Linked DNA regions of Homo sapiens. The protein of the gene in region 2 purifies or fractionates together with the protein of the main gene of each other region. This does not show direct contact. Each region holds a gene or a part of one and is shown on either strand. Other genes may lie near its edges.

Region 1 (3,810 bases), on a different chromosome or scaffold from region 2:
GTTCTTGAAACTGCTGCAGGTGTGGCTTTGCAGCCTTTACACAGCACATTTCAAAATATAATGTGCATACAGAGCGTCTGTTAATGCGGGGCAACGCTTCGAGTAGCAAGGGGGCAGAACACCCTGGGTCTCCAGCGAACGTGGGTGCTGGTGTGTGTAGGTGCACATGTGTGGGCTGGGTGAGAGTGAGGAGGGGCTTGTGCCTGATGCTCATCTCCGCAGTGGACATGTTTGTGGCTTTTGATCGTGCCTTGTGCTTGGCTGGTTCCTTCATTCTGGGGAGGCTCAGACCTGGTGAACGAGAGAGCCTCCTCTCACTATGGTTCTCCTGGATCCCCTTCTTGCTATAGCTCAGATGATAGGCTGAGCAAAAATAATTGCTCCAGGCCGGGAATGGTGGCTCCCGCCTGTAATCCAGCACTTTGGGAGGCCGAGGCGGGCAGCTCACTTGAGGCCAGGAGTTTGAGAGCAGCCTGGCCAACATGGCAGGTTTCTCAAAGTTAGGGACTGTCTGAGATTGGATTCCTCCAGGAAGTAACATGAAAACAGGGATTTTAGCAGTAGCTTATTTGGGAGGCAACCCCAGGAAGCAGGCACGGAGGTGCCAGGTGAGGCAGGGTGTGTATCAGCAGGTGGCACCTGGAGCTCATCACCACGGGGGCCTCTGCAAGATGGGGTAGGTCACATCCCAGAGCTGTCCTGCCCGAGGAGAAAGAGGCTAGGGTAGGTATCCTCCTCTTCCCATCCATCTGTGGCTGAGGGTGGTGCCTGGGATGCCAGTTCCTGACACTTTTGGCCTGCACACAGATGGGCTCGGCAGGCCAGAGACAGCCTTGAGGTGGAGTCACCGGTGACGGAGGGTGGGGCGCTGATGGCCCTGCTGCAGGGAGAGGTTGTGTGACCTTGTAATGCTGGATCCTAGCAAAGCACCGGCCTAGACAGAGTGGGGAGGGATAAAAAGCTCCCTTGCTAGCTCTCAACGCAGTGTTGTCCCCTGTCCTGGGCTGGTGGCTTAAGTTCTGGCAAGGCCTTGTAGAGCAAAAGCAACTAGAGGCCAGGAGCAGGGGCTCACACCTGTAATCCCTGCACTTTGGGAGGCCGAAGCGGGCGGATCACTTGAGGCCAGGAGTTTGAGAGCAGCCTGGCCAACATGGTGAAACCCCATCTCTACTAAAAATACAAAAAGAAATTTAGACAGGCGTGGTGGCACACGACTGTGATCCACCAAGAGGCTGAGGCAGGAGAATCGCTTGAACCTGGGAGGTGGAGGTTACAGTGAGCCGAGATCATGCCACTGCACTCCAGCCTCGGTGACAGAGCGAGACTCCATCTCAAAAAAATTTTAAAAAGATAAATAGGAACTTGGCCCCTTGGCCACGCCCTAGGAAGAGGGCCAGGTATTTGACTGGTACCAGCTTATAGGCTTAAATGGGGCTAGAAGTACCAGTGCCAGGAAGGAGGCCTTAGGTAGGGACCTCAGTGCATAGGAAAGAAGAGTGAAGGGGGTTAACTGATTAATTTCACTGCTGGAAACTGACCAACCCCAGCCCCCTGCACGGGGAAGCTGGCAACAAGGCGTACAGGTAGGCAAGGGGGCTCCTGTCACCCCACAGTCTCCTCCAGCTTCTTCTCCCACTTCTCCACCCACCTCCCTCTGCTCTCCTCCCTCTCCCCTCCCCTTGCAAACCAATCCTCTAAGACTTCTCCTGCAGAGGGGCTCGGGCAAGGCTGGGGAGGGGGACTACATAGACTTTTCCAATGTGGGGAGCAGCGTTTGGCCCAACCTCCAAGACACATTGTTAAGCTAAAAGAGCGAGACACTCCACCTTGGGGATAACTTGCCCCCCCGGGAGGCCCAGAAAGCGGGGTCGGGGGAGGGCTGTGTGCATGAAGGTGCTGCGATAGTCGCGGGTATTTCTGGTGGGACACACAAGAAATTGATAACTGGGGGAAGGACTGACTGTCTGCGGTGAGAGGAAACTTCCCTTTCATTGCTTTCCTGTTTGGTTTTTTTTTACATGAACATCTGTTTAATTTTGTTAATTAGTTAATTAAAAAATAACAATTACAAAAGGATTAAGGAAGCAAGGTATTGCAAATCTGACCAGCTGAGATTTGTGCTGGGCCCCAAACCAACGGAGGCCCCTCTGCCTTCAGACCCCTCCCTTCTGTGGGCCCCACCCCTCCGCATAACAGCTCACCCCCTCAGCTCACAGCAGCTCAAAAACATTTATGTGCCCAAGAGTCACCCGGGGGGAGGGCCTTAAATGCAGATCCTCGAGCCTATCCCGCACCTTCCCATTTAATAGGACCCAGCTTCGCGTGGGAATCTGCATTTTAAACAAGAACTCTGGGTAATTCTAATCTTCCCATTTTATTATTTTTTTAAAATTTTCTTTTTATATTATTTGAATAGAGATGGGGTGGGGTGGGGGGGGGGTCTCATTTTGTTGCCCAGGCCAGTCTCGAACTCCTGGGCACAAGCAATCCTCCCGCCTCGGCCTCCCAAAGAGCTGGGATTACAGGCATGAGCCACCATGCCCGGCCTAATAATTCTATTTTAGAAAACAGATTTAGGGACAGCTGGTGGAGGCTGAGAGCAAATGAGGGCTGCCATCATGGGGAGTGGCTTGTTCTGCAAGTCATGTGGCCTTTTACAGGGAGAGGGAGGGAGGAGCGGCCAGGATGGGGAGAAAGAGGTGAGAAGAAGAGGTGAGAAGAGGGAGGTCTAAGACACAGCGAGCCGGCCCCGGGCCTGACAGCCATGGAAAACCAGGGCCCGGCACCCCTTCTGTGTCTCTGCACCTCCCTGGGTTTGCCTGTGGACATCTCTGTGTCCAGAGCAAGGCCATTCAAGGTGATGCCAACACTGGCTTCCGCTGCACCCCTCCCTGCTGTCATTCCCGCAGGCCAGCAGTTCCCAGGCAGGATCAGCACCTGTCACTCTGTCGAGACTGATTAGGGCGCACACCTGTAATTAGACCTAATGGGGGTAATTTCCAGGCCAGGCAGGCTGGCTCCTCCGGCAGGAGATTCGTGGCAGGCGGAACGTCGTCGTCGTCGTTGGCCGTGAGTGTTTGCTTCACACAGGGACCTTTGAATTATCTTGTGACAAGGGCTTACAGACACAGGAGCAAGAGTAACTCAGAGATTTGCTGTCACGGAGCCGGGGAGCGGCATTTGGAGGGGAAAGCTCTTCTCTGGGGAGTTTTATTTATAACCTGAGAGTGAAGCCTTGTCCCCGCAAGACCCCCAGAAGTGTGTGGGGCTCAGAGGCTCCCAGGACTTCGTCATGAGTGTTTAGGGAACCAGCTGGGGCAGCAACTGGCTGCCAGGGTCTTCTTGGGCCATCGGCTCGGGAATGAGAGCAGGTCGGGACAGGGCTGTGCAGAGCACGGGGCTTCAAGGCTGGGCTGGGGATGGGACCTGCAGATTCTCCGGGACTTCGAACTTGCCCCAGCGTTGAGAATACCCACGCACAGTGCAGGGGGACGTCAGTGCTGGGGCAATGTCCGGCTTCAAGGACATCAGTGACTGCCGCTTCCCTGGGACCCTTGAGTGTCAGGGATGTCCCCTTGGCCAGAGGCCCCAGGACGAGTCTCCTAAGAAGTGGGGTACACAGAAGGCAGGACCGAGCTTGGCGCAGTTGGACTTTCTAGCACCACCCAACGCTGATGAGGAAGAAAGGAGGTGGTTGCAGGCTTGAGTCAAACAGTTAGATTTCACCCACTGGCTAAAGACGGGAAAGCGGCCTCATTAGGAGATGGGCTGGGCCAGGTCAGGTGCCACCAGGCATGGTGGGGTGGGGAG
Region 2 (3,810 bases):
CTCCCAAGTAGCTGGGATTACAGACTTGCGCCACCATGCCTGGCTAATTTTTGTATTTTCAGTAGAGACAGATGGGGTTTCACCATGTTGGCCAGGCTGGTCTCGAACTCGTGACCTAAAGTGATCCACCTGCCTCGGCTGCCCAAAGTTCTGGGATTACAGGAATGAGCCACTGCGCCCAGTCGACAATTTTATATCCTGATTTGCTTGTGCATAGGTATTTTCCCATGTAATTCTCACCCTTTCATGTGTTATTTTTTAGCGACTACATAATTATTATTCTGATGACACCAGATTTCCTGTTATAAGTAATGTTCTACCGCTCATCTTCAGGTTCAAATCTCTATGCACATTTCAGATTATTTTCTTAGCATATATTTCCACAAGGGGAATTACTGGGTCAAAGGATGAACTATTTATTTATTTATTTATTTATTTATTTATTGAGACGAAGTCTCGCTCTGTCACCCAGGCTGGAGTGCAGTGGTGTGATCTCAGCTCACTGCAACCTCCACCTCCTAGATTCAAGCGATTCTCCTGCCTCAGCCTCCTGAATAGCTGGGATTACAGGCGTGCGCCACCATGCCCAGCTAATTTTTTTTTTTTTTTTTTGAGATGGAGTTTAGCTCTTGATGCCCATGCTGGAGTGCAATGGTGTGATCTCAGCTCACCGCAACCTATACCTCCCGGGTTCAAGCGGTTCTCCTGCCTCAGCCTCCCAAGTAGCTGGGATTACAGGCATGCACCACCATGCCTGGCTAATTTTGTATTTTTAGTAGAGACGGGGTTTCTCCATGTTGGTCAGGCTGGTCTTGAACTTCTGACCTCAAGTGATCGGCCTGCCTTGAACTCCCAAAGTGCTGGGATTACAGGCATGAGCCACCGCACCCGGCCTAATTTTTGTAATTTTAGTAGAGACAGAGTTTCACCATGTTGCCCAGGCTGGTGTCGAACTCCTGACCTTAGGTGATCCACCTGCCTTGGCCTCCCAAAGTGCTGGGATTACAGGCATGAGCCACCGTGCCCGGCCGGATATGAACCTTTTTTAAGAGTTATGGCGAGACCCTGTCTCCACAAAAAATTTAAAAATCAGCTGGGCATGGTGGCATGCACCTAGTCACAGCTACTTGGGAGGCTGAGGAGGGAGGATCACTTGAGCCCAGTAGGTTGAGGCTGCAGTGAGCCATGATGGCGCCACTGCACTACAGCCTGAGTGGCAGAGTGAGGCCTTCAGTCATGATGCCAAATTGCTTCCCAGACAGGCTGTACCATCATATGAGTAAGCTTGCTTCATGGCCTGGTGGTTAGTCAACACACGACAATGTTTTCTTTCTTTCTTTTTTGAAAATATTTGCTAATTTAGGCCAGGTGTGGTGACTCACACCTGTAATCCCAGCACTTTAAGAGGCCGAGGCAGGTGCATCACCAGGTCGGGAGTTCACAACCAGCCTGGCCAACATGGTGAAACCCCATTTCTACCAAAAATACAAAAATTAGGTGGGTGTGGTGGCGCACGCCTGTGATCCCAGCTACTCAGGAGGGTGAGGCAAGAGAATTGCTTGAACCCAGGAGGCAGAGCTTGCAGTGAGCCGAGATCATGCTACTGCACTCCAACTTGGGCAACAGAGCAAGACTACATCTCAAAAAAAGAAAAAAAAAGAAAAAATTTGCTAATAGGGAAAAAATGGTATCATCAGTGTTTTAATTTTCTGCAGATTAAAATGGACATTTTTGCCAGGAGGGAGGGTGGCTCTGCTTTCACACAATTCAGAGCACTTACTATTTTGGAATGTGTTCACTGCTGTTTTAGTAGAAAATCTTGTCCCCAGCCCTGCTACCCCTCCCTACACATGAGCTCCACGCATTCAGTCTTTCTGTGAAATTCCAAGCTGGGCAGTCTGTTTCTCTGTGCTGCTCCAAGTGGGTGTGCCCTTCTTGGGTTTTGTACCAATTGGGATTTTTAACCCAAGCAAATATGGGTACATATTTATGTCCAATTTGGGGGAAAGAAAAAAAAAATGAACTTACTAAGAAGTTGATGAGTGAGTTTTTGTGACAACTGCCTGTCGTCACTGAAGCCTCCAACAAGGTGTACTTCCAGCCTGGCAAAGAGATGAGACGGGTCAGAGGCCAGAAGAAGACACCGGTGCGTGCGCTGGTCTCACTTTGAACTTTCATTCTCAGTTTCCATGAACACTTGCTCTACAGCAGAGCTGCAGGTCATCTTCGTGCCACCGCAAAAGAAAGTATCGGCAGCACACTGCCAAGGCCAGTGGCGAGCTTCTGGGGACCCTGCCCAGGGGCCCTGATGACTGAGGGGATCCGTATCTGAACACAAATGTGATGCCGCCTCCATGCACCAGTGGGGAACTTTGCTCTGGAAGAGCACAGGCACAGGACAGGTGCAGTGGCTCACATCTGTAATCCTAGCACTTTGGGAGGCTGAGGTGGGCGGATCACTTGAGGTTAGGAGTCTTGAGACCAGCCTGGCCAACATGGTAAAACCCCATCTCTACTAAAAATACAAAAATTAGGCCGGGCGCAGTGGCTCACGCCTGTAATCCCAGCACTTTGGGAGGCTGAGGCGGGCAGATTGCTTGAGCTCAGGAGTTTGCAACCAGCCTGGGCAACAAGGTAAAACTCCATCTCTACTAAAATACAAAAAAAAATTAGCTGGACATTATGGCATGTGCCTGTAGTCCCAGCTACTTGGGAGGCTAAGGCAGGAGAACTGCTTGACCCTGGGAGGCAGAGGTTGCAGTGAGTCAAGATCGTGCCACTGCACTCCAGCTTGGGCTACAGAGTAAGACTCTATCTCAAAAAAAAAAAAAAAAAGAAAAGAAATTAGCCGGGCATGGTGGCACACCTGTAATCCCAGCTACTCGGGAAGCTGAGGCAGGAGAATTGCTTGAACCTGGGAGGCAGAGGTTGCAGTGAGCTGAGATCGCGCCACTGCACTCCAGCTCTGGGCAATCGAGCAAGACTCCGTCTCAGGGGGAAAAAATAAATAAGTAAGTTGGGCGTGGTGGTGGGCGTCTGTAATCCCGGCTACTCGGGAGGCTGAGGCAGGAGAATCACTTGGACCCAGGAGGCAGAGGTTGCAGTGAGCCAAGATTGCATCACTGCATGCCAGCCTGGGTGACAGAGCCAGACTCTGTCTCAAAAAAAAAAAAAAAAGGTTTGAGGCCAGGTGTGCTGGCATATACCTCTATTCCCAGCTACGCGGGAGGCAGAGGTGGAAGGAATGCTTCAGCCCAGAAGTTTGAGACTAGCCTGGGTGACAGGGTGAAACCCCGGCTCTAAAACAAAAACAAAACAAAACAAAAAGACTGGGCAACTGCCTGCTGGAAGCCCTCCTTAGGAGTCACACTGCGCATTGCACAGTGAAGCTCTTGAGAAGTCCTGCGACTGAAAAATCCAACTAACTTTCTTGAACCCAGTGTTTCCCACACTCATCTACTAACCCCCTTTTCCACAGCCCGTCAAGTGGGCGAATTCACGCTCGGCAAAGTGTTGCCAGACTTTACGCTGCCTTCTCAGACACAAAATCTTCCTAAGGGATGAACCAGAAGCTTGGATGTACCCAACATAGGGCACAGCCTCAAGGGGCCTCATAATAAACTCCAAGTAGTAGCAGTAAGGAGAGCTGCGACCACCATGGCTTTGCCACTGGGCCACCAGGTTTGCCTCTGACTCCCTGAGCGATCACAGTTCTACAACAGATCAGGAAGAGCTGACAAGCACGTTCTGAGAACCACGGAGCAGAGTGTGTGGCAACATAATGGCATTGATTACGTCCCCCTGCGGGGG

The links.
Region 1: the proteins of NTAN1 (region 2) and MGAT5B purify together in Homo sapiens (affinity purification with mass spectrometry; one large-scale study listed by BioGRID and IntAct). This does not show direct contact.

What each region holds. Positions count from the first base shown.
Region 1 is NC_000017.11:76,941,194-76,945,003, forward strand, and holds part of MGAT5B (alpha-1,6-mannosylglycoprotein 6-beta-N-acetylglucosaminyltransferase B), read left to right. Parts: intron 1-2,909; coding exon of another isoform or gene 2,910-2,981; exon of another isoform or gene 2,982-3,810. UniProt on the Homo sapiens protein: Glycosyltransferase that acts on alpha-linked mannose of N-glycans and O-mannosyl glycans.
Region 2 is NC_000016.10:15,042,306-15,046,115, forward strand, and holds part of NTAN1 (protein N-terminal asparagine amidohydrolase), read right to left. Parts: intron 2,103-3,810; coding exon 2,029-2,102; intron 1-2,028. UniProt on the Homo sapiens protein: N-terminal asparagine deamidase that mediates deamidation of N-terminal asparagine residues to aspartate. Required for the ubiquitin-dependent turnover of intracellular proteins that initiate with Met-Asn.